7 linked regions of the Homo sapiens genome follow. The protein of the gene in region 1 purifies or fractionates together with the protein of each later gene. This does not show direct contact. Each region holds a gene or a part of one and is shown on either strand. Other genes may lie near its edges. The genes, in order: TSPAN5, SLC7A2, TMEM87A, MRM2, AGPAT3, TVP23C and RDH12.

Region 1 (3,500 bases):
TAATGCCTCTGAGAATACAGAATTCTCCCAAGGGAGTGTTAATGTGGGACAGGAACTGGCGACAGGAGGCGCACTGTGCGGCACCCGCTGGCCAGTGCAAGGCCACCAGGATGAGCCCCTCAAGCTCTGAGTGGGCACTCTGCTGCCATGTGGCTCTCCTCAGAAGGGAGAGGAGGTTTGAGCTGGTGGGAAGGGCAGCTGGCGGGGCAGCACAGTCCTTAGTGACTTTGTCTCCTCTTTCAGACCAAGAGAAACAGCTGAGGTGGTCCCCTGGAGGAAGCCCACAGGGAAGTTCTGCTTTTCCACTCCAAGACCATAGCTCCTTTTAAGAGCCCCACAGCCTCCACCATAAGAAGGAGCATCCCCACTGAGCTCATCAGCACCCACTCGGCTCTGCTTCTGAGGGGTAAGGGCGAGCCTTGGGGAGTACATCTGGAGACTGCAGGGCCAGAGAACAGTTGAGGAGTCCCAGAAGGGTTCTGCAGCTAGGAGCACACAGAGATGCGTGGAGTAACCTCTCATGTTTGTCATTCTAACACTAGAGAGTTACCTTTTTTTTTTTTTTTTAAGAATTGTGGTCTCACTCTGTCACCAGGATGGAGGGCAGTGGCATGATCATGGCTCACTGCAGCCTCAAACTCCTGGGCTCAAGTGATCCTGTTTCAGCCTCCAGAGTAGATGGGACCACGGGTGTGTGCCACCACACATGGCTAATTTTTTAATTTTTTTGTAGAGATGGGGTCTCACTATGTTGCTCAGGCTGGTCTTTAACTCCTGGGCTCAAGGGATCCTCCCACCTCAGCCTGCCAAAGTGCTGGGATTACAGGTGTGAACTACTATGCCTGGCTTAAGAATTGCATTTTAAGTCATTCTATATACCAGGCACGATTTGACACAAAATATAATCAAACCTGTGGCAAAAGTGAGTGACTTACAAATAGATTTTATATTTTATTCTTTTTTATAATAAAATGCAAACTGCATGACTATAGTCATGATGACATTCAGGAGTCTGGGCAGCTGTGGTCTTCCTACACAGCAGTCCAGGCCTATCTTGTCTCAAACTCTCCTCCTACTCCTAATAGTTCCCCTAGAACTAAGCCAAAAAGAAAAGGGTTACTAACCCCAAACCAATGCAGAGAGCTCTCATATGAGCCTGCCCTTCTCATGAAGAAAGGCTAACAGATGATACAGGCAAGTTGCCTGGGTCTCATATTCCACTCCATTGCCTGCTAGCAGTGCAAGCTTGGGAAAGTCACTTACACCTCATGTGCCTTGATTTCTTCCCCTGAAAAGGGAGGGTAATGGTGGTATCTGCCAGTAGGAATGTGCCCAACTTAAATGAGCCAACACACATAAAGGCTTAGAATAGGAACCAGCACACACTGCTAAATTAATGCCAGCAATTATTACTCCTACTAGGAAGATTTGAGCACCATAACCCCCTACAGGAGCTACAAATACGAGTAACCAGGTAAGAAGAGGGTTCAACCAAAAAATCACTCTGCTCGTCCCATGCACACTCTCGGCATGATGTACAGAGTAGGCCAATAGTTCGCTGGCATTCACTTACTGCGGGATCTTTAGTGCAGCAGGAGAATGGAACGCCACATCGCTCTCGACTTGCATTGGAATCTGTGCAATTGAAGTAAATATTTAGGTTCCAATCATCAGCTCCAAAAGCCCCACAGCACTGCCACTAGAGCAAACAGGAAAGAATTAGAACATCCCAACTTGGAGGCAAGCAGTCACCTACACTCACACCCGCCGAACGACACCAGCTTCTGCCAGCTCTGACCTTCTTTTCTGTCCTAGACTTTATTTTTAAGCCAAACTGAACCTAAATGGCCCATATAAAATCTTCCAAATTAATTAGGGCTGAAGGTTTGTAGGGATGTGTTGGCACGTGATTTAAACAACTGATGAGACCTGTGGTGTTAGGTGGAAGAAGGGCAGAGCAGCTGTACAGCAGGGCTCAGTTAGAACAAGATCTGTTTGGCTTGGGCACGTCATTCTAGAAGGAGAAACAAGAACATTCTAGAAGGGTAAATAAGACACTAACGACAGTGGTAGTGACTGAAGGAGGCAACTGGGGTTATGGGTGGGCTAACTATAGCTTACTTTTTCAAAGTTTTGATCTCTACATTCTAATAGTTTTTTTAAAGATCTGTTTTGTTTTATGGAGCGCAGGGAGACCCCCTGAAACTATTGCTATGGAATAAAAGATGAAATGCTCCTGATTACTGGAAATACAAAATTGCATGCAGGATTGTGTAAAGACAATGCCAGGTTGGACTGCCAGAATGAGCCAACAGTGCGTGATGTGCTTCCCCCTGCAGAGAGCCTATGAATGGACGTGCAGTCAGGGAGGTTTCACATCACCAAGATTCCTATCCCAGAAAAGCAGATGTTCATAGCTCTGGGAATAGAATGCGACCTTTGTGGAGAGCCTATAAACAGACACATGAGGGGCACCTGTCCATATGTATAAGACAGGGCTATAAATGCCCTCATCTTGCCACGGCTCTTCTAGACCTCTTTAGGGTTAAGGCATACTCCCTTCTGAGAATTTCTGGTCTAACTGGTTGTGTAGCTTCACGTCCTGTTTCTATGGATTGTTTGTAACTGGCTTTTGCTGCAACTGTTACTGCTGACTAATATCTTGCTAATCATAGGTTGTGGAAAGACTGTGTTTCTGTTTTAAGGCTCTGTTAGAAATTACTGAAGCACACACTATATTGTAAATTCTTATCCCTGTATACTGTACTTTTGCATACAGATGTTATGTTAAAGAATTACTTCATCCCCATGTGACCATCTCACCTCATAATCAAATGACCTAAATCCCTCACTAACCTACCCCCACCCTCACTAAACTTAATAATAAATTCTGGTATATCCAGTGCATTGTTGGCACTGCGTGACCAGAAGGCGGTGACCCCCCTGGACCCAGCTTTCACTATCTTGTGTGTGTCTATTATTTCTCGACCTGCCGATCCGCCTGGGAACAGAGAGATCCCTGTTGCATTGCAGGCTGCTGGCCAGATCCCGCAATAATGGAGGTATAACTGACATACAATAAATTGCACATTTTAAAGTATACAATTTGATAAATTTTGACATCTGTATACATCACAAAAATGTCACCACAATCAATGGATATATAGTTGATATATCCATTACCACCAAAAATTTTAGAGGTTAACTTTTCATCATATTTGTTTCTACTCTGAGTTTGTTTAAAAACAAGTGCATGTGTTTTACATTTTCAACTTTAAAAAGTCAGTCTTCCAATTAAAATATATTAAAACAAGCGGTTAAATTCAGTGGTTCTTAAATGGGGCCGGAGTCAAAGGCTACTACACAAGCCCCTTCCTCACTTCCCTGGGATGCACTTTCTCTACTTCTCTGAGTTAAATAAATATCAAGTCTCAACCATTTGAAGACCTTCCGGACCAACAGCTACTTCTAAACATTACATTCCATGATGCAAAAAGAAA
Region 2 (3,500 bases), on another chromosome or scaffold:
CATGATTATTTAAAACTGGAAACTAAAAAGAATCAAATTGAATTAAAGCTATATAAACACAGTTAACCCTTGTAAATGAGTAAACAAATTTTTACATGTAAGATTCTCTAATTGTCATATTTTACTTTTTAGGATTCCCTAATAGTGGACTGTTTATTTGCAGTGTATTTGCTTCTCATGAACTATTTCTCGTACAAATCATTAAATAGTTCATTGGATGAGGCTGGGTGACATTTCCCAGGACAGCATGGTGAACATTACCAGGCATGCTAGCTGGCCCGTGTAATCCCAAGACAAGGAAAACATTCGTTTTCCTCATGGGTCTTCCAAGAAATGAGCTATTTTATTGATGCCATTAAAAAGCAAGTTGCGATGGTTTTGTATAGCCAGGAGTTTATTGTGATTAAACATCAAAGAAACAGGTAGAAAGCCTGGGTTTCTGGCTGCTAGCGTTATAGCATCCATGACACAGAACTCATTACGGACATTCCACAACTTCCAGGGTGCACATGGTAAAATCTGAAGCCCAGAATTTTCTCTCAAGCTGCGTGGTTTACTGGAGAGAAGGAGTTGGATAAGCACAGGCTCGGGTATTTTGGTAGGGACTGTAGGCATGCTCATAAATCCTTGCTGTTGTCACAGTACGCTGAAAACCCGTTTGATTCTATACCCAATCAAGAATAGACCCTTCACACAGGAAATGTGAACAATTGTTATATATGAACACTCAAATCTTTTACTGTAACGAAACCAAGAAACTTGTTTAGAATGTGATAGGCAGCTAAAACTGTTATGCCCACTGTGCTCAATTTGAAGCAGAATTTAGTGAAAAATTATTTTTCCACATTGAAACACTTTGCAGACACAAATATCTATGAAAAGATGCTTTGTCAGCCACTGTGCCTTTTTTTCTGTGAAGACTCAACGGATGTGTGTGTTTGTATGTTTGTTAACAGTTACATATGTTTGTATGAGTGTATATATATATCTGTGTGTGTGTATCTCTAACGTCAGTGTATAAGTAAGTTGGGTTTATGGTGGGCTTTGACTATGTCATTAGGTGGGTACAAAACCCAACTGATGTGGAGAAAAATTGATGTTTGATGTTGATAGATATGCTTATACCTAATTTTTAGTTTTTAAACTATTTTAAAATATACTATGATTTTATATGTATATTTCCTATAGACTCTTTAAGACGTATTTATAATGTTTCTAATATGAAATCACTAAACTCTAGTACATTATAGCAGGTGCTTTGTAATCTGGAATGGAGAAGAGGTAGGGGCATTTGGGGATTCCTGTTTACTTGCTGCTGCCACACCTTTTCCGACTGATCTGTCCTGGTAGGTGTTTATTAGCAAAAGTCAGTATCACCAGCTCTTTGGCACCTTTCTGTTTCTGCTTGTGAATTCATAATGTTTTCAACTAAATTTTTTTTTTCTTTCTCAGAATTACCTAAATGTTTTGTAGAGTTTTGACTAGTAATCAATCAAAATTATATAAAGTCTTCTCCAGTAATTAAGAAATACATATGCAAATTCTTTTGTGATTGAGTAAAAGCAGCTTAAATTACTTTTCTTTTCTACATTAAGAAATATATTCTCAACATTTTCAGTGAGAATTTCTTGTAATGGCACCTCAAATTTTATACTCTTAAAAAAAAACAATAATTTGTGAATTACCACCAAAAGGCAATGGCAGTCCTACATTTAAGAATAGAGCTATGCAAACTCTGTTAAAAACTATGAGGAAAACTTATATTAGAACTTTTGATATATACTAAAATACTGATTATCTTAATCACATTTTCCCCAGAGATAAACATTGAGAGAACGAAAGCCAAAGTGTCATTTAAGAGAGATATATATGAAAAAGTAACATTAATATATAGAACTTTACCATCACCAGCCGTAGTTGATAGAAAATATTAGTTTCAGAATTACCCTCCTTTAAAAAATAAGAGACTATTTGTTTTCTTTTAATTTCTATGAATAAAAGAAATTTTTAAAAACTTTAAAATTTTAAATATTAGTCAAAATACTTTTTAAGTCCTGAGTGCTTACAGGTAGTTGTTAAAAAAATTTTAAGGCCAGGCATGGTGGCTCGCTCACACCTATAATCCTAGGATCTTGGGAGGTCGAGGCAAGCTGATCGCTTGAGCCCAGGAGTTTAAGACCGGCCTGAGTAGCATAGCAAGACCCTGTCTCTACAAAAAAAACAAAAATTAGCTGGGCATGGTGGCATGCACATGTAGTCAGAGCTACTGGGGGTGCTGAGGTGGGAGGATCGCTTGAGCCCAGGAGAGTGAGGCTGCAGTGAGCTGAGATTACGCCACTGCACTCTAGCCTGGGCAACGGTGAGACCCTGCCTCAAAAAAAATAAAAATAAAAATAAAACACTTTAATTAGAATCTATTTTTACCTATTTTCTAAATTTATTTAAATGCTTAGCAGGAAGCATAAGGAAAAGCCATCGGCCTCCAATACCCATGATGACAGAGGGAGCACTTGAGCCTTGCCTTCCCTCCTCTTAAATCAGGGTGTGTTCCGAGATTACAGAACATCACACCTTGGCGTGATGAAATCATGCCAAGATTCTGACTCTCCCTTTCCGGTGATACTGCTCATGATTTCTCCTAATACGCTTCAAGCAACTGTTACCACAAAAAATACAGTTTCCGCAGGGCTTTAAAGGATTGAGTTTAGCATGTATATCATGCGTTATTAAAGTTCACGTGATTCATGTGAAATTAACTGTCCTTTTTGCTAGTGCCAAAACAGTGCCTTCTCTGCACACTTTACTTGTTTATAAAGTTCTCCCACATGTCCTTAAATATCAAGGGGGAAAGTATGGATATTCGCGTAGCAATAATGCCAGCAAAGGTCATTTTCATTTTTTAGTCATATAGATATGAAAATAAGTTCATATAGATATGAAATTGCTTGACTTTATTGTTTTGGGGAGATTTTTTTTCCTTACATGATTATATTAAACACTTTAAAATAGCCTTCCGGTTTCTGGATTTTGAGAAGCCTGATCTGTTATTGTTGTGGTTGTTGGTGTTTGTAATATTCATTATTGTTTGTATATACACGGTTTAGTCTTACTGATTTCAAATGCATTTTGTTATTGCTCAACCCAACTGGTAACACTGTTTGCTGGGAGCATTATACTTAACTTTGATTCACCATGGTTGATGCCACTGCCATGATCGCTGGGTCTTAAAGAGCTTTCCCTAGCCACTGACAGCCCCGTGGAGATCATAATCAGGGCCCCAGGCTGGTTCCAGGATCAGGCAGCCTATAGAGTGTGAGCATCTATGTGTAGCTACCCTTGTTGGGTGGGCTCTTAGACTGATGGGGTAGGATATGAAGTGAAAGACTTCAAATGCAAGTAAGGTAGTTTGGGCTCCTTAATTCCAAACATCCCATGAGTATATCAAGATGAATAAGGACCAAGGGACCTCTGTGACTCATAGAAGGGCTGGCTGAATCCTG
Region 3 (3,500 bases), on another chromosome or scaffold:
AAAGAAAATGAAATTGACAGAGGGTTAAAGTTGCTAGAAGTCTAAGAGAATTACATACAGAGGACAGTGTGATTTGAAAAGCAAATGTGCATCCACAAAGTGTTTGATTTAAGAGGCAATTTATTGCAAAACATATTGAGCCGTTTTCTTGTGGGCAAAGCCAAGTTTATAGTTTTTACAATATTGAATCTAATAGGTTGCTGTGGAGTCTTTTTTTAAAAAATAAGAAAATTAATTGAAATGGCCTAGAGAACCTTATACTTCTTCGTATTAATCCAGTGGTAACATAAATTTCTTTTCTCCTCTTTTTTAAGGAAGAGGTATCACTCTGTTGCTGGAGTGTAATGGCATGATCATGGCTCACCGCAGCCTGAACTCAATCAGTCCTTCCACCTCAGCCTCCCAAGTAGCCAGGACTACAGGCACCCACCACTGCTCCCAGCCATAAATTTCTTTATCACTTAGATTCTTTGGTTTCCTTCCCTGGCAAAGGGAATAATTATACAATTCTCAAAAATGGTGTGAAACTTCATTAGCTGCATTTTTTTTTCTTTTTTTGAGACGGAGTCTTGCTCTGTCGCCCAGGCTGGAGTGCAGTGGCACGATCTCGGCTCACTGCAAGCTCCGCCTCCCGAGTTCACACCATTCTCCTGCCTCAGTCTCCCAAGTAGCTGGGACTACAGGCGCCTGCCACCACGCCCAGCTAATTTCTCGTATTTTTTTTTTTTTTAGTAGAGACAGGGTTTCACCATGTTAGCCAGGATGGTCTTGATCTTCTGACCTAGTGATCCGCCTGCCTCGGCCTCCCAAAATGCTGGGATTACAGGCATGATTACACACCCAGCCTCATTAGCTGCATTTTAAGGAAGTTTTTGAAACTGAAATGTTAAGAAACAACAGTTACTTTAGATTAGATTAACTAGTAAGTGTATGACTCCAAAGTCTGCCATTTACACAAGAATTTCAGTCTGGATTTCAGTCTGGATTCCATTGATTAGAAAAAGAAAAAAAAATGCAAGTCTACTGCTTGGGAGGAGGAACTAAAACAATTAGCAATTTGGAGACAGGTGGAAAAGCATTCATTCGGGCACACACTAAATTTACAAAGCTCTAATAGATTTAAAAGAGAACATGAACTATACATATATTTTGAAAATCAGAGCCCAAAAGTGACTTAAAGCAAACAGAAAGAAGCCCACAGACATTTCCAATCCACACTGTCAAGATGTAAACAATATAATTGAACTGACCACAGAAAATGAGATTAAGCAGTACTAACCCCAGTAACTCTGAGGACCCCTTCCATGCCAGAGAACAAAAGATAGAGGGCTCCTGCTACTACAACCTTATGAAGAGTGACTCCAAGGCGTGGCCTAAAGAGGAAGCAAGGAGATATTTGAGTACATATGGGACAAATGCCGAAACAAGCTAAGTAACAGGAACTTGTGTTAATTAATATAGGCCAACAATTTAAAGCAATAAATAATATACACTTGATTCACCTAAGAGAAAAAAACTAAGACCTTATGGTCTTAAAACAAGATAGGGAACACTACAACTTGAGATCTTGTGTCTGGTTACCACATTTTAAAAAATGTTTCCTCAGAGAGTTTTGAAACATATTCACAAGTAGTATAATGCACCCTTATAAACCCTTCACCAAGGCCCAACAACCACTAACCTATGGTCAGTTTTGTCCCATGCATACCCCATCCCCTTTCCACCCTTTCATATTCTCTTGATGCAAATCCTAGACAGTATATCTTTGATATATTTCAGTATGTGTTTTTAATAAATGAGGACCTTATTTTTCTTTGGTATTTCAATGGCTACAAAAGGGCCTTTCTTTTTTTCCCCTAAAGAAACAGGGTCTCACTCTATCGCCCACGCTGAAGTGCAGTGGCCCAGTCACTGGAGCCGTGAACTCCTGGGCTCAAGCAACCCTCCCACCTCAGCCTCCCGAGTAGCTGAGGACTACAGGCACGTCCCACTACACCAGGCTAATTTTTTTTTTTTTTTTTGATGTTTTGTAGAGACAAGGTCTCACCGTGTTGCCCAGGCTGGTCTAGAACTCCTAGGCTTAAGCGATTCTCCTGCATTGGCCTCCCCAAGGGCTGGGATTACAGGCATGAGCCACTGTGCCTGGCCCACAAAAGAAACTTTTAAAAAACATCACCAAGATACCACCATCAAATCTAAAAATTCTAACGATTCCTTAATATAATCAAATATCCTATTACGGTTCATTAAATAGTATATTTGCAAGCTCGAAACCTAATATATGAAAAGTCTTCTGAGCAACTTCTGTTTGAAGGAGAAAAAGTCTTAACTCCTTGAGATTCAAAATCCTACACAACCAGAATCCACATGTTAACAAAATCCTTAGGTGATTCCTTAGTGTAGTGTAGTTTAAGATGTGCTGCCTTAAATCATGTCTGCATAGGCCTTACCAATATTTGTTCTTATATTTTTTGTTATACATTGGGGAAAACTCCATATGAGCAGGGAATTTTCTCCCCATTCATCTTGGAAACCTAGAATACTTCCTGGCATATAGGAGGCACTCAAATAATTGTTAAATAAATAAGTTTTAAGAATTAAAATTCCCCATATCTCTAATCCCATTTAAAGCAAAACTCCTTTAATTGAATAAACAAACTTAAAACAACTAACCTTAATCCTACTTAAAGCACTATAAAGTGATGCTATAGCATTACTTAATCCCACTTAAAGCAAAATTCCTTTAAATAATTGTCTATACAATTATTCTAATTCCTCTCCTCCTATACTCTCTGGAACTCTCCCCAATTAGGCTTTTGTCCCTATCTCTTCACCAAAACTATCACTATGACCCTCCATATAGGTAAACTCAATGGCCAATTCTCACTTGACCTATCAGGATCTCTTGACACAATCACTTCCTCCTTGAAACACATTCTTCAGTTTTCTACCCACCTCACTGGTCTCTCCTCAATTTCTTCTGCTAACTACTTCATCTTACAGACTTCTAAATAATATTAAATATTCAAGGGCCCAGCCCTTGGACCTCTTCTCTATATATACTCACTTCCTTGGTGACCAAATCCAGTCTCATGACTTTATTTATTTATTTATTTAACTTTGGAGATGGAGTCTCGTTCTGTTACCCAGGCTAGAGTGCAGTGGCATGATCTTGGCTCACTGCAATCTCCGCCTCCAGGGTTCAAGCGATTCTCTTGCCTCAGCCTTCCAAGTAGCTGGGACTACAGGTGCATGCCACCACAGCCGGCTAATTTTTTGTATTTTAGCAGACACAGGGTTTCACTGTGTTGTCCAGGCTGGTCTTGAACTCCTGACCTCAGGCAATCTGCCCGCCTTGGCCTCCCAAAGTGTGAGGATTATGGCGTAAGCCACCACGCCTGGCCTTCATGACTTTAAATAATATCTTTATCTTCATGACTCCCAAACTTTTATCTCTGCCCCAACCTCTCCCCTTTGTTTCCCCTACTTAGTTATCTAAT
Region 4 (2,755 bases), on another chromosome or scaffold:
GGCTGAAGCAAGAGGATTACTTGAGCCCAGGAGTTCTAGTCCAGCCTGGGCAACATAGCAAGATCCTGTCTCTACAAAAAAATATAAAAATTAGCTGTAGTCTCAGCTACTCAGGAGACCCAGCTAAAATGAGGCGTGAGGCGTCCCATTTTCCTGGGGTGAAGACTGAGGGGTTTCGCCTTTGAAAAATGAGGTAATCTTCAAAATACCTGGACTTCCAATGTTTACACTAGGAATGAAACACGGTCCCTTTCTCTCCCCCTACCGTTGGAACAGCCTTTCTGTTAAGCAGACTGAACAAGAAAATCTGTGACTGTACCCTTAGCTTATCAACTCTGACAATTTCTCAACAGAACTACGGCCCTCCTCAGTGGAGGGGACTGTTGGGGAGATGGGGGCGTTGGGCTTGTGAAGAGGGGGCTTTGAATGTAGGTACAGAGTGAGAAGAGGGGGAGGCAGATGCTGAGATCAGTTATAGGCAACAAGTCTTGTTTTACGTAAGGTGACACAAAGGCATCTTTTTAGTTTTAGCAAACTGGTGTTACTCAAATATCAGCAAGTTATCTTTGTGTGTCTTTGTGTGTGTGTGTGTGAGACAAGGCCTCACTCCGTTGCACGGCCTCAGCTCACTGCAGCCTTGACTTCCCCAGGTTCGAGCGACCCCTGCCACCTCAGCTTCCCAAGGAGCTAGGACCACAGGAACATGCCACCACACCTGGCTAATTTTTTGTAGAGACGGGGGTTTCACCATATTGCCCAGGCTGGTCTCGAACTCCTGACCTCAGGTGATCCTCCCCTTGGCCTCCCAAAGTACTGGGATTACAGGTGTGAGCCACTGCGCCCGGCCTCACGCCTCACTTTATGCTCCTGAGCTTTCACTCCTATAATATCCAGTATGTTACAACCTTCGGAAATTTCCACCGAAGGCAAACAGCTTTGGCTGCATGCTTGTGACTTCCGGGAGGACAAGCCCAGGCAGATCACGCTCACGCTCTCTCCTTCTGTCACTTCCTCCTACAAGGCACGCTGGGCCACTCTCCTGCTTCATCTCAAGAGCACTTAGGGGAACAGAAACCACTGAAATCAGTTACTAGGAGGACTCCACGGTGATAAGCTCAGCAATGAGAAAAGGAACTGACATTTCCAACACAAATTCACTTATTTAGTCAATAAATGTTGAGCTGAAAAACAATAAAAAGGCTTTCAGGCTGACCACGATGGAAGCACCAGGAAGCACCTCGAGGATGCTGGGAGGCAGAGGCGGGCGGATCACCTGAGGCCTGGAGTTCGAGACCAGCCTGGCCAACATGGCAAAACCTCATCTCTACTAAACATACAAAAATTAGCCGGAAATCACTTAAACACAGGAGGCAAAGATTACAGTGAGCCGAGATGGCGCCATTGCACTCCAGCCTGGGCAACAGAGTGAGGCTCTATAAACAAAAAAAAAAAAAAAAAAAAAAAATGCTGTTGAAAAGCCCGAAGAGGCATATCCCCGCCTAAGTATGGGCAGGGGCCACCCAAGGGGATGCAGGTAGACACCAAGAGTTCATGGCAAACCTACCGCAAACCAGCAGCGAGGCAGATGTGCAGATCCAGGGGGCCAGCATTCCATTTCTGCACTTTCAACAAGTCATGAAACCCTGAGCCTGTTTTCTCACCAATAAATGGGGACCAGTGTCCCTACTCTAAGGTATTTGGGAGAGACTTGGGAGAGCTCTGGGTGGACTGTCTCACCCTGTTCAAATGCCAGTGCATGCAGCTACCCTGGCTTTACAGCAGGAAACATAAATGGCAAGGATATTCACCACAGCACACGCATCCCAGCCAAAAGCCAAAAGCAACCTTGATGCCACAGTGAGGGAGCTGGTTAAAGAACCTACGGTGCAAGCACTACATGGAATAGGATGAAACTTTCCCAATGACGACAGTGTCTTCAGTTGCATGGGCGGTTGGCTGATCTCATTATTCAGGAGAACCTTTTTATATAGAAAATCTTACTCAAAACCCTAAGATACAAAACAGATGAAAACTGTGTCTCAGCTTCATCCAGAGCAAAGAATCCATAGCCCTGGCCATGAAGCCTCTTCTAGGTTCCGGACGGAGCAGCCCCAGTGGGGCCACCAGGAAAGCCCCAGGGCTTATGCGACTTGGAAATTTAGCTGTGCTGTTGGGGAAAGATGTCAATACATCATTAAGAGTAGCCGGGCACCATGGCTCACATCTGTAATCCCAGCACTTTGGGAGGCCGAGGTGGGCAGATCACCTGAGGTCAAGAGTTCGAGATCAGCCTAGCCAACATAGTGAAACCCTATCTCTACTTAAAAAAACAAAAAGAAAAAATTAGCTGGGTGCGGTGGCGGGCGCCTGTAATCCCAGCTACTTGGGAGGCTGAGGCAGGAGAATCGCTTGAACCAGGTAGGCAGAGGTTGCAGTGAGCCGAGATCACACCATTGCACTGCAGCCTGGGCAAGAGTGAGACTCCATCTGGAGGGGGGGGAAGAACAAAAATAATAACAATAATAATTATATATATATATATATATATATATATATATATATATATATATATATATATAATACATATATGTATGTATCATTAAGCAAAAATAGCTCCAATAGGCTGCAAATTAGCAAGAAAAGTATGGCACAACATCGCTTTTGAAAATGTGAGGGATCTATGCATGCACAAGCCTGGAAGGATGCACACCACCATGCTGGTGCTGGTACCTGCGGGCGGTCTCATGCGAGGTGA
Region 5 (3,500 bases), on another chromosome or scaffold:
CCGTTTCAAACACACACACACACACAAAAACACACACAACAAAACGAACAAGAAAACAAAAAAACAGAAATGCTAACAGCACAGGCAGCCCATTTTCCAAGACAGACCAGGAAGAAGGGACAGAAAAAGAATGGGGATGCACACTGAGCAGGGCGGGCAGAGCCAGGGCTCACTGGGGGCACCCTGCTCTGCCCCCTCCCCCGGCCAGATCCCCTTAGGATGGCCTGGTCAGAGCTGGGATTGCGGCGAGTAGCAAGCAGGTGGCCCAAGAGAAGCCTCCACGCCTGCAGCTCAGATGGGGGAGTCATGGCCCCATGGAAACAGCACCCCATGTGCAGAGGCTCTCATGGGGTTTCCCAGCCTGGGATGTGGGCAGCCGTGCATCAGGAGTTGGCGTGGCCTCCTCCAGGCATGCAGGGTATCGGGCTGCTCCGCGCACTCACCCACATGTACTCGGGGTAGTCCGACAGGCGCCTCAGCCCTTCGACCACGGTGTCCCGGTCCTCCTCCCACTTCCGCTTGCAGAACACAATCTCCAGAAAGTACCACGTCCAGCCGATGAGGGGCACGTAGAGCAGCTCCTTCTTAGCGAGGACCTTGGAGCTCTGGAGGGAGGAGAAGGAGGGGCACCTGGCACTTCAGCGTCGGACAGAGGCCAGGGGCTTGGCCAGGCTCCCGCTGCACCCAGCTCCTGTGTGGTGTCGCTCTAGGAGTCACGGCTTTGTGGCTCAGGGGGTCTGCTGTGAAGCAGGACCCGGCTTCTGAGGGTGAGTGGGTCGCCCCAGAAATGAGGAAACTGAGGCTCAGGCTTGGCTGGGAGGGCCCTCAGGGAAGGTGGATGAGCCGGATGCAGAGGCTGCCAGGCTTCCGGGGGGTGGCCTGGGGGTGCTGCCTCACACAGGGGCTTTGACTGCAATGAAATTCTTCTGCCAGCATCGGGGAGTAGTTTAGGTTTCATCTGAGGCAGCTTAGCTAACGGAAGTGGTTCTGCAGGGACGCAGGTGGGGTCATCTCAAAGGCAAAGGCCATGATGAGAAAGGAGGGCACAGCTCGGGGACAGCTGAGGCCCTGCGGGCCAGGGCCCCTCAACCAGCCAGGCACCACTGCCGAGCTCAAAGAGACGCCCCAGGAGGAACACCCAGGGACTCGGACCCCAGGGGCCTCCCCGGCACCTCCTCAGGGAGTCCCCTGCTCCCCTAGCCCTTTCCCTGGGAAACCCAAGGCTCTCCCAGCTCCTCTGCTGGGACCCCCACTGCTCCACCCAGTACCTCCCCCACCCAGGGCCCTCTTGCTCACCCCAGCACCCGCCTACTCCCCCAGATCCTCCCCAGGACCCTTGCCGCTCACTCCCAGCACCTCCCCTGGAAGGTGCTCACCCTAGCCTCTCCCTGGGACCCCCCACTCACCCCCAGCCCTCCCCAGGACCACCCCACCCTGCTCATCCCCAGCCCTCCTGGGACCCCGCCCAGCTCACTCCCAGTCACCACCCCACCCCCAGCCCTGCAGGGACCCCCTGCTCACCCCGGCCCTCCCTGGGTCCCCGCTCACCCCCGGCCCTCCCCGGGACCCTCCTGCTCACCCGTGGCCCTCCCCAGGTCCCCGCTCACCCCCAGCACTCCGAAGCGCTCACACATGGTCCACCCACAGAGGAAGTCGATCTCGAAGTTGTGGTTGAGGATGATGACTGCGTGCTCCTTCCCAAAGCGCTCTACCGTGGCCTGGTCCGTGAACAGTGTACACTCCGTGCAGGACCACCACTCCAGCAGCATGACCAGTTCTGCGGACAGGGGGAGGGCGTTGGCACTGGTAGGACCCCTCCTCCTGGGATGGTCAGGGAGCGCCCACAGGAGACACCTACAGTATTTTTGTCCAGAGAGGAAGTCTCTGCTAAACATGAGTTTTGATGACTTACACTGAGTACGTTTTATGAAATTACAATAACTTTCTCTAAGCAACAGTTGGGAGGAGACAGATGGAAGGTAGCAGCAGAAAGGGAGAGAACCGCCACTCTGCATGGAGACGCTGATCTTTACGCCCAATTACGCTTCTCACGTGCACCTTGGTGTGGCCGAGTACCGCACAGCCACGCCCCGTGAGAGGTGCAGAAGATGAAAAATGTCACTAGATGATTAGGAAGCAGAAAACAACCATCGTATGTCTGCAGAACAGACAGTGGGAAAAAATGAAGAGTTAAGAGCAGAATGGAATTATAGACGACAGAGTAATAGGAATTATATTTTCTCCTAAAACTTGCTTTGGGGTTACACTGGTTTTCCATATTTAAAAAAAAGCCATGTGAGGCCTAGCCCGCCCCCAGGAAGGCCGGCTGGGGGTGCTCGACGGGGCTTGCTGCTGGGCAGGTGGCCAGAGGCCTGCGGGGTCCCCAGAGACAGCAGGGCACACCTGACCCCGTGGGTGCTGGCATGTGAGGGGTGCCAGTCCTGGCTTTGAGTGCTTGTCCCCCCCACCCAGGGGTTCTTGGAGCCTCCTCCCTTGGTCTCTTCCCCTGGCTCCGGCCTGGTGAGCTGAAGACACTCTTCCCAGAAGTGTGGAGGGGCTCGTGCCGGGAGATCTGTTTGCCGGCAGGAGACCTGCACGCCTGGGAGGGCTCTGGGGCTGCTGGGAACGCAGCATCGTCTGTCTCCTGATGGGGACTCTGGGATGCCCTCATTCACCTTCGGGAGAACTGCAGGGCTGAAGAGTTCCGTGGTGAGAACGGTGCATCTTTGTCACACGTGGGCCTCAGAGGGAGTTAGTCCTGTTCAGAGGGCCATGTGGGGAAGGACAAGAGGGAGGCCAAGCAGGTGGGCCTCTTGTCGGCCACCAGAGTCTTGTGCCCCCCAGCCAGTTGTCCGGGAAGGATGGCCCCACAGAACCAGGACGCGGCTTCCAGCTCAGGACGGCCTCAGGCTTCTCGCGCTGGACACCAGCCCAGCTCTGAAGTGTGGGCTTTCTGCAAGGCCATTGCCCGGGGTTCTTTTATACCAGTTATTTATAAAGGACACTAGAGACCAATTCCAAAGACATCCTGCACGGGTGAACAAAGGGCCGCTACCCGAGATCACGCAGCTCAGCCCAGGATGGCCAGAGACGCCTGCAGACAGCGTGCAGGTGCAGGGAAGTGTCTTCCCAGCGGTCATGATGCTGCAGGCACATGCAGGCGAGCAGAAAGGACGCAGAAAGGAGAGAGGGAACTCAGGGTTTGTGGGGGTACCAAGGGACCCCAATTCCTTTAAAAGAGAAAGGTCACCTGTGGGCAGAGGCAGTGGACGGGAGGAAATCCTGCGTGTGGGGAGAAGACTCGCTGACCAAGCCCCCACAGCAGGCCTGCCCTGGCAGGGGCGCCCCCACCGCTGGCTCACCCCTGGCAAGTGCTTGAGACCTCTGCCTTTAGGGTCATGCCTAAAGGCTGGAGAAGGGGAATGAACTGAATGGGAGCCCACACAGCCAGCCAGACACAGGCACACTCCCCATGAGTGTTCTGGAAAGACGAGCTGCGC
Region 6 (3,500 bases), on another chromosome or scaffold:
TTTCTACTTCCTTAAAACAAAACAGGGAGAGGTTATGTGAAAGCCAGTTTGATCCTGTGTTAACCTACTTATGCCTAGTGTTCCATTATTGGAACGCTAAGCATGTAGGAGTTATTTATATCCTACTGCTCAAGGTAATCACCAAGGTCTGATTTTTCACTCATGCAAAAATTCACAAAATTGCAGCCTACAGCATAAATGGGTTAAGACCTTGGCATGGTGGCTCATGCCTGTAATCCCAGCACTTTGGGAGGGCCAAGGCGGGCGGATCACGAGGTCAGGAGATCGAGACCATCCTGGCTAACACGGTGAAACCCTGTCTCTACTAAAAATAAAAAAATTAGCCGGGTGTGGTGGCAGGCACCTGTAGTCCCAGTTACTCGGGAGGCTGAGGCAGGAGAATGGAGTGAACCCAGGAGGCGGAGTTTGCAGTGAGCTGAGATCGTGCCACCGCACTCCAGCCTGAGTGACAGAGCGAGACTCCGTCTCAAAAAATAAATAAATAAAAATAAATAAATAAAAATAATAAAAATAAATGGGTTAAGACCACAGGACGGGAATGGGCTTCACCCAGTCTCTCCATGAGTCTCCCACCTCCTCACTTCTCTTAAGATGATCATCTCTCATGATTATTGATCCTTCTGCGCTTCGTCTCCTGCCTTCTTCCCACCCGGTGGCACCACTATGGCCAGCTGCAGGGATTTTCCTGCCTGTTTGGGTCATTGTTAGTTGGGAGGAGTTTCTGCTGTCATGGCTATTTCTGCATTTTTTTCTCGGGTCTTTTGCTTTTCTATAAGTTCCTGGGGATGGTAATTATTAGTGAAATTTTCCTTAGAGCTTCTTTGCAGAGTTTGGAGCTATGTAGAGCTGCTCCAACCTGGCTCTTTCTTTGGCCACCAGCCCTTTTTTGTGTTTGTTGGTATTAGTTTATTTGTGTTTTTAAAAACGCTGTTTGCTGTTTGTACCTTAAGGGCAGGGAGATCTTCATGTCTGACTTCACTGCACCATCTTAAACCAGAAGTTTAACTTACAGATTTTAACATTTGTTGCCATTGAGTAAATCGATGCCTTAGCAGGACCCGTGATTGGTCTTTGAATTCAGGTGTACCCTGGCATGTTGATATATACAATACCCAGCAGTGCCCCATTTGAGAAGCATGGGAAATTAAAAGGAAATTTATTCAAATAAATACACAGTTTTATATTTATTTAGGAAACTAGCACCCTCTTATTACACTAACACGTTTAATTCCATGAAACATAAGTTTAGAACAGAAAGTACCACCTCCTCTTCTTTTACTAGGAATGTGAACCTGTTCATTAATCAAACATTTAAATCTATTAATTAAACATTAAAATCAGCTATACATCTTGTTAAGGGTAAGGAGAATAAATCTAGATTGGAAAACGACATTTCATTGAGCTGCTTTGCTTGTCACAGATATAAAAGAGTAGAATGGTCGATGAGCTGTTTATTCCAGAACAAGGGTTGGCAAACTATGGCCTGCAGACCAAATCCAGCCCGACACCTGTTTTTGTAAGTTTTTATTGAAAAACAGCCTTGCCCACTTATATATTGTCTATGGCTGCCTTTGGATTAGAACAGCAGAGTTGAGTAATTGCAACAGAGACCGTATGGTCTGAAATATTTATGATTTGACCCTTTACAGGAGAACTTTGCTGATCACTGTATTAGAGTCTTTAACCTTGGGAATCCCTCACATTGTCTCAATTTTTCTAATTAAGATTAATTAGAAATTTTTAAAGAATGGGTTTTGAGTTTCTTTTTCTCACTTCTCATTGATCCTAGTGGGATCACCATAGGTGAGAAAATGAAACTCAAAGGAACAAACAGCTCTGCAAAAGTACAGTTCCCCTTGGAGCTGTCTCTCTCCTCGGGGAAGGCAGGCATCGGTTGATTTATGCCTTAGGGCATTGCATCCCCTCTACCAGAAGCCAGTTGTCACGTAGAGCAGAGATTCACCCCTACCTGCTCTCAGTTTATTGAACTTGATCTACCTCTTGACTGTTCTTTTGTAATTCCTATAGGAATAATTAACATTTGAACCTTTCCTGAGTCTCATTTACTTTTCCTAACTTTACTCACAGACCAATGGGAAACAGAGAGCAAGAAGGCTCCCCCTGCACTGCATCCCCAGCAGCTAGCATGGTGCCTGGCACATAGAGCAGTTGTGTCCAGTAAATATTTGCTGGGTGAATGACTCGTGCCTTGTGCAGAGCGTCTATCAGATGGGTCTGTTCTGGCAACTGTCTCTGGAAAATCTCAACTGGCACAATCATGGCTTTGCAGAGCTTCCTCTTCCTTCTCTTTCTCATGACAGTCTGCCTTGTCTCATTTATGGCACAGAGAAAGGTCAATTTCAGGCCAGTAACCGTTGATTATTTTTTTCCCTTGTCCCAGGCGGTGGTTATTATGGGTGTGGTGCTACAAGGTGCCAACCTGTATGGTTACATCAGGTGTAAGGTGCGCAGCAGAAAGCATTTAACCAGCATGGCTACTTCATATTTTGGAAAGCAGTTTTTAAGACAAGTAAGTGTTTTCTGGATGTGATCAGTGACTAATGCAATTATTTCTAACTTTCATAGTTTAATTTTTATGAAACGCTCCTGAACAGAAGTTTTAAAGGCATATAGTTGTATAAATATAATGATAAAGATGTTGTAATTGCTCTTTGGGGGTGTTCAAGACAGTCTGGAAGTGTATTGTCAGTATCCTAAAATTATTTTAAAGCCAGGAAGGATAAACTATCATTGATAATAACTTATTTTTTAAAAATTACTTTTAAGTTCAGTTGTTTTTCATCAATTATGGGAGCTTTAAGTGAATGCCCTTGCAGAATGTATGTTGTATGTTTTTATTTTTATTTTTTGAGACAGAGTTTTGCTCTGTCGCCCAGGCTGGAGTGCAGTGGTGCAATCTCGGCTCACTGCAACCTCTGCCCCCCGGGTTCATGTGATTCTCCTGCCTCAGCCTTATGAGTAGCTGGGATTACAGGCGCATGCCACCACGCCCAGCTAATTTTTTGTATTTTCAGTAGAGATGGGATTTCATCATGTTAGCCAGGATGGTCTCCATCTCATGACCTTGTGATCTGCCCACCTCAGCCTCCCAAAGTGCTGGGATTACAGGCGTGAGCCACCGTGCCCAGCCTGTATGTTGTATGGTTTTAGGGAGAACAGTTGAATCACAAGAAGACCATAACATTTGTACTCAGATGTTTTTTTCCCCCTAGAACATAAGGATTTTACTATAATACCTCAACATCAGGGTTTTCAGCAGGATGAGTAGTAGTCATAGGTAAATAATTATTGGTTAAATCTCTTGGGAAAAGTGACTAGGTCTTTTTTTTTTTTTTTCTTGAGATGGAGTCTTGCTCTGTCGCCCAGGCTGGAGTGCAGTGGCGTGATCTCGGCTTACTGCAAGCTCCGCCTCCCGGGTTCACGCCATTCTCCTGCATCAGCCTCCCGAGTAGCTGGGA
Region 7 (3,500 bases), on another chromosome or scaffold:
TTAGGTTTACTGGCAAAGAGAATGTGGGGAAACTAAAGCAAGTACCCCCTAAACCCCCCATCCTCAATTGTTTCTCTTCTCTAGGAAATGTGTTCTCCCAACCACTGCCACCTCTACTGCAAGATGGAATATATAGAATATTTCTAACTTTAGCCACAAACCCCATGATGCTTAAAATATGAGTGGATTAAAATAGGATGGGAAGGAAACTCCCAGAAGAATGGAGAGAGACGTCAGAAGAGCAGTTAACCTTAGGGAGGAGGGGGCAGTGACTGGGGAGGGAGATGACTGGAACTCCTGGAGGGCTGAGAGTGCTCTGCTCTTTCATCTGGGTGCTAGTACATGGGTGTGCTCACTTTATGAAAATCTGCTGAGTCGTATGCTTTCGACTTGTGCACTTTTCTGCATTTTATATTTTACTTCAATGAAGTTAACACACGCACATGCATATTACAAGGAAAGGTATGGTGTTTAAGTGCATGGACTCTAGCGCTGAATCTATTTAAAAGCTCCACGGCCCTGGGCAAGTTACTAAACCTCTCTGTTAACTCAGTTTTCTCACTTGTACAATGGGTATGATTATATATATAATATATGGTTTTATATATATATGTGTTATACATATATATATATATATATATATATATCCCCACTTGTTCTAAGTGTTCAATTATTACATTGGTGGAAAACGAAACTGGCATATGCTAAACAGTATATAAGAGTCAGCTGTTATGGTTAGCTGTTCTGATTCGTATCTCCCTTGCTATCTCACTTGCTTTACTCAAGGCCATGGTGTAGAAAAGGGAGAGATGATGAACGTGGGTGATGTTTCAGTTGAATGCTATTGAAGATGAGGAGAAATACAAGAAAATGCTGGTAAAGAGCCCAAGGTAGGGGGATCCCTTGAGGCCAGAAGTTCAAGACTGAGCTTAGGCAACTTAGTGAGACCCTGTCTCTACAAAAAATTATCTGGGTGTGGTGGTGCGTGCCTGTAATCCTAGCTACTCGGGAGGCTGAGTAGGGAGGATCACTTGAGCTCAGAGGTCAAGGTTGAAGTGAGCTAGGATCGTGCCTCTGGATGTGTGTGAGATGGGAGAAGGGTAAGTGGGATTCATTGCCCTTCCTCGCTCTGTGTTCCTCTCTTGGACAGAAGAATAGACAAGGAGCTGGGACAGGACCCCAGGAATAATTTCCCAGTTCTGTCCCTTCCTGTGAAGCCAGAGGAGCCTCCAGGAACACCCATGCATGAAAGACTTCTGTGGCAGGCAGGTGTTCATGTCCTCATTCATCAGTTCATCCTCAACACACATTTACTGAGTGTTTCTCTGCACCAGGAATTGTGCAACATACTAGGAAGACACAGTTTCTGCCCCTGGGGAAACCCATGGACCTGACCAACAGAACAAGGAGTGATCAGATCATTCCCAGCAGACACTTCTTGACTCAAATCTAAGATCCTTGCATTTAAGAAGATGGTACTCACCTTAGCTTGAGCTTGTCCAGGAAGCAGAGAGTCCTTAAGAACAGCATACAGTCCTCTGGAGAGAAGATATTAGAAGGACCATAAGGCATCTAGAATTATGAAAATACACAAACACTTTGCTAAAATAAAATGTTAAATATTATAATCCAAAGGCCACCATCATATCATTGATAAGTTGTACCAAAATGCTAAACCATACTACTAAGTACAGGTAGGTGAATAGGCAGACAAATCAATAGAACAGAATGGAAAGGCAAGAAATAGACCCAAATACACATGGGCATTTAGATATGATGAAAATGCCATTTCAAATCAGTGGAAGGGACAGATGATTTAATTAACAAAGTATTGTGGCACCTAGGTATCCAGCTGGGAAAAAGCAAACTTGATCCTTCCAAAATTCGAATACCTCAAAGACGTAAGTATGAGAAATGAAACCACTGAAGTATTAAGAAGAACCACTGGACACATTTTTAGAGTGGTAAGACCTTTCTAGTAAGACAGGAAACTGAAAACTAAAACTTAAAAAATGAGCATGACAAAAACCATCATACACAAGGCAAGATAAATGAGAAACTGGGGGGAAATATTCATAACAGGCTTTGAAGACAAGAGACTAATTGATTTAGTAGATAAAGAACTCTTACAAATCAGTAAGAAAAGGAATAACAACCCAATTGAAATAGCAGTTTACAAAAAAGGAAATACAAGTGGCTCTTCACCCTCACTCATATGAGAGATGCAAATTAAAATTATACTGGGAGCCACTTTTCACTTATCAGATTGCCAAAGGTCAAAAAGATTGTAGTATGATCCACTGGCAAGCATGTGAAGAAATAATGCTGATGCATTGCTCGTGGGAGAGTCCATTGTTAAAGCCTCCATAGAGAGAAGTGTTGTAATGTCTAGTAAAGCTGTGCATGCACTCATTCACCTAAACATTCGACTTCCATGTATTTATAAGGTTACCATTATAGCATTGTATATTATAGCAGAAGTTTGGAAACCTCCTAAATGTCCATCAATAGTAAAGCCACATAATAGATAGTATACAGCTGTAAAAAAAGAATAAATAATTAAGAAACAGAATAAATAAAAAACTTAAGTAAATAAACATTAAATTTTGGTTGGGCACTGTGGCTTACATCTGTAATTCCTGCACTTTGGGAAACCGAGGCAGGAGGATCACGTGAGACCAGAAGTTCAAGACCAACCTGGGCAACATAGTGAGACCCCGTCTCTACAAAAAGGAAAACTAAAAATTAGCTGGCCTGGTGGCACACACCTGTGGTCCCAGCTACTTGGGAGGCTGAGGCAGGAGGATCACTTGAGCCCAGGAGGTTGAGGCTGCATTGAGCCATGATCATGCCACTACACTCCAGCCTGGGCAACAGAGCAAGACCCTGTCTCTAAAAAAAAGAAAAGAAAAAATAAATAAACTTTTCAGCAAAAAGACCCTGATAACCTGCAGGACACATTTCACAGGCTTCCAAATGAACTGCTTGGAAAAGGTCTTAAGACTGATGGCTTACATCCTGTCTCTGAGTAAAGAATCTTATCGTGAGGCACTCAAATTCTATTGCGAGTTCCTCAAACTATGTATTTATTAATTGTCAGGTTACTGATTAATACTGACATTGAAAGGGACATTGTTTTCTTTCTAAATCATAAAGCTCTGCTGATTTGTTTTTACTGATTGTCTTGTGCATAAAACATTTTAGCCTGTACGCTGTCATCCATAGGCAATGATTGTAACCTCTGTATTGTACCCTCCAATGGAAAAGGATAACTCCGATATGAGGAGTCCCCCTTCCTTCTCCTAAACAGTCTTATAAAAGCATTCCAACTTGTAACAGATGTTGGAACATGCCCAACTTTGTTGGTGTATCTTACTGGATAAATTCTCACATTTGGCTTCCAATAAACTTTTATCAATTTATCTCTGCCCCAATGGCCTTAATTTCTGTTGAAAACCGTATCATTTTGCAACAACTTACATGTTTATCTTTGTTAAATT

Evidence for each region.
Region 2: the proteins of TSPAN5 (region 1) and SLC7A2 purify together in Homo sapiens (affinity purification with mass spectrometry; 3 studies listed by BioGRID and IntAct, with this or other methods). This does not show direct contact.
Region 3: the proteins of TSPAN5 (region 1) and TMEM87A purify together in Homo sapiens (affinity purification with mass spectrometry; 3 studies listed by BioGRID and IntAct, with this or other methods). This does not show direct contact.
Region 4: the proteins of TSPAN5 (region 1) and MRM2 purify together in Homo sapiens (affinity purification with mass spectrometry; 3 studies listed by BioGRID and IntAct, with this or other methods). This does not show direct contact.
Region 5: the proteins of TSPAN5 (region 1) and AGPAT3 purify together in Homo sapiens (affinity purification with mass spectrometry; 3 studies listed by BioGRID and IntAct, with this or other methods). This does not show direct contact.
Region 6: the proteins of TSPAN5 (region 1) and TVP23C purify together in Homo sapiens (affinity purification with mass spectrometry, with the first as the bait; 3 studies listed by BioGRID). This does not show direct contact.
Region 7: the proteins of TSPAN5 (region 1) and RDH12 purify together in Homo sapiens (affinity purification with mass spectrometry; 3 studies listed by BioGRID and IntAct, with this or other methods). This does not show direct contact.

Annotation. Positions count from the first base shown.
Region 1 is NC_000004.12:98,477,112-98,480,611, forward strand, and holds part of TSPAN5 (tetraspanin-5), read right to left. Parts: intron 1,700-3,500; coding exon 1,574-1,699; intron 1-1,573. UniProt on the Homo sapiens protein: Part of TspanC8 subgroup, composed of 6 members that interact with the transmembrane metalloprotease ADAM10.
Region 2 is NC_000008.11:17,566,588-17,570,087, forward strand, and holds part of SLC7A2 (cationic amino acid transporter 2), read left to right. Parts: 3' UTR 1-3,500. UniProt on the Homo sapiens protein: Functions as a permease involved in the transport of the cationic amino acids (L-arginine, L-lysine, L-ornithine and L-homoarginine); the affinity for its substrates differs between isoforms created by alternative splicing.
Region 3 is NC_000015.10:42,231,934-42,235,433, forward strand, and holds part of TMEM87A (transmembrane protein 87A isoform 1 precursor), read right to left. Parts: intron 1,374-3,500; coding exon 1,280-1,373; intron 1-1,279. UniProt on the Homo sapiens protein: Potential monoatomic ion channel gated by mechanical force, implicated in normal touch sensitivity through the generation of mechanically activated currents.
Region 4 is NC_000007.14:2,236,451-2,239,205, forward strand, and holds part of MRM2 (rRNA methyltransferase 2, mitochondrial), read right to left. Parts: intron 1-2,755. UniProt on the Homo sapiens protein: S-adenosyl-L-methionine-dependent 2'-O-ribose methyltransferase that catalyzes the formation of 2'-O-methyluridine at position 1369 (Um1369) in the 16S mitochondrial large subunit ribosomal RNA (mtLSU rRNA), a universally conserved modification in the peptidyl transferase domain of the mtLSU rRNA.
Region 5 is NC_000021.9:43,966,223-43,969,722, reverse strand, and holds part of AGPAT3 (1-acyl-sn-glycerol-3-phosphate acyltransferase gamma), read right to left. Parts: intron 1,778-3,500; coding exon 1,608-1,777; intron 606-1,607; coding exon 444-605; intron 1-443. UniProt on the Homo sapiens protein: Converts 1-acyl-sn-glycerol-3-phosphate (lysophosphatidic acid or LPA) into 1,2-diacyl-sn-glycerol-3-phosphate (phosphatidic acid or PA) by incorporating an acyl moiety at the sn-2 position of the glycerol backbone.
Region 6 is NC_000017.11:15,539,484-15,542,983, reverse strand, and holds part of TVP23C (Golgi apparatus membrane protein TVP23 homolog C), read left to right. Parts: intron 1-2,422; coding exon 2,423-2,572; 3' UTR 2,573-3,500.
Region 7 is NC_000014.9:67,718,886-67,722,385, reverse strand, and holds part of RDH12 (retinol dehydrogenase 12), read right to left. Parts: intron 1,573-3,500; exon of another isoform or gene 1,539-1,572; 5' UTR 1,484-1,538; intron 1-1,483. UniProt on the Homo sapiens protein: Retinoids dehydrogenase/reductase with a clear preference for NADP. Displays high activity towards 9-cis, 11-cis and all-trans-retinal. Shows very weak activity towards 13-cis-retinol.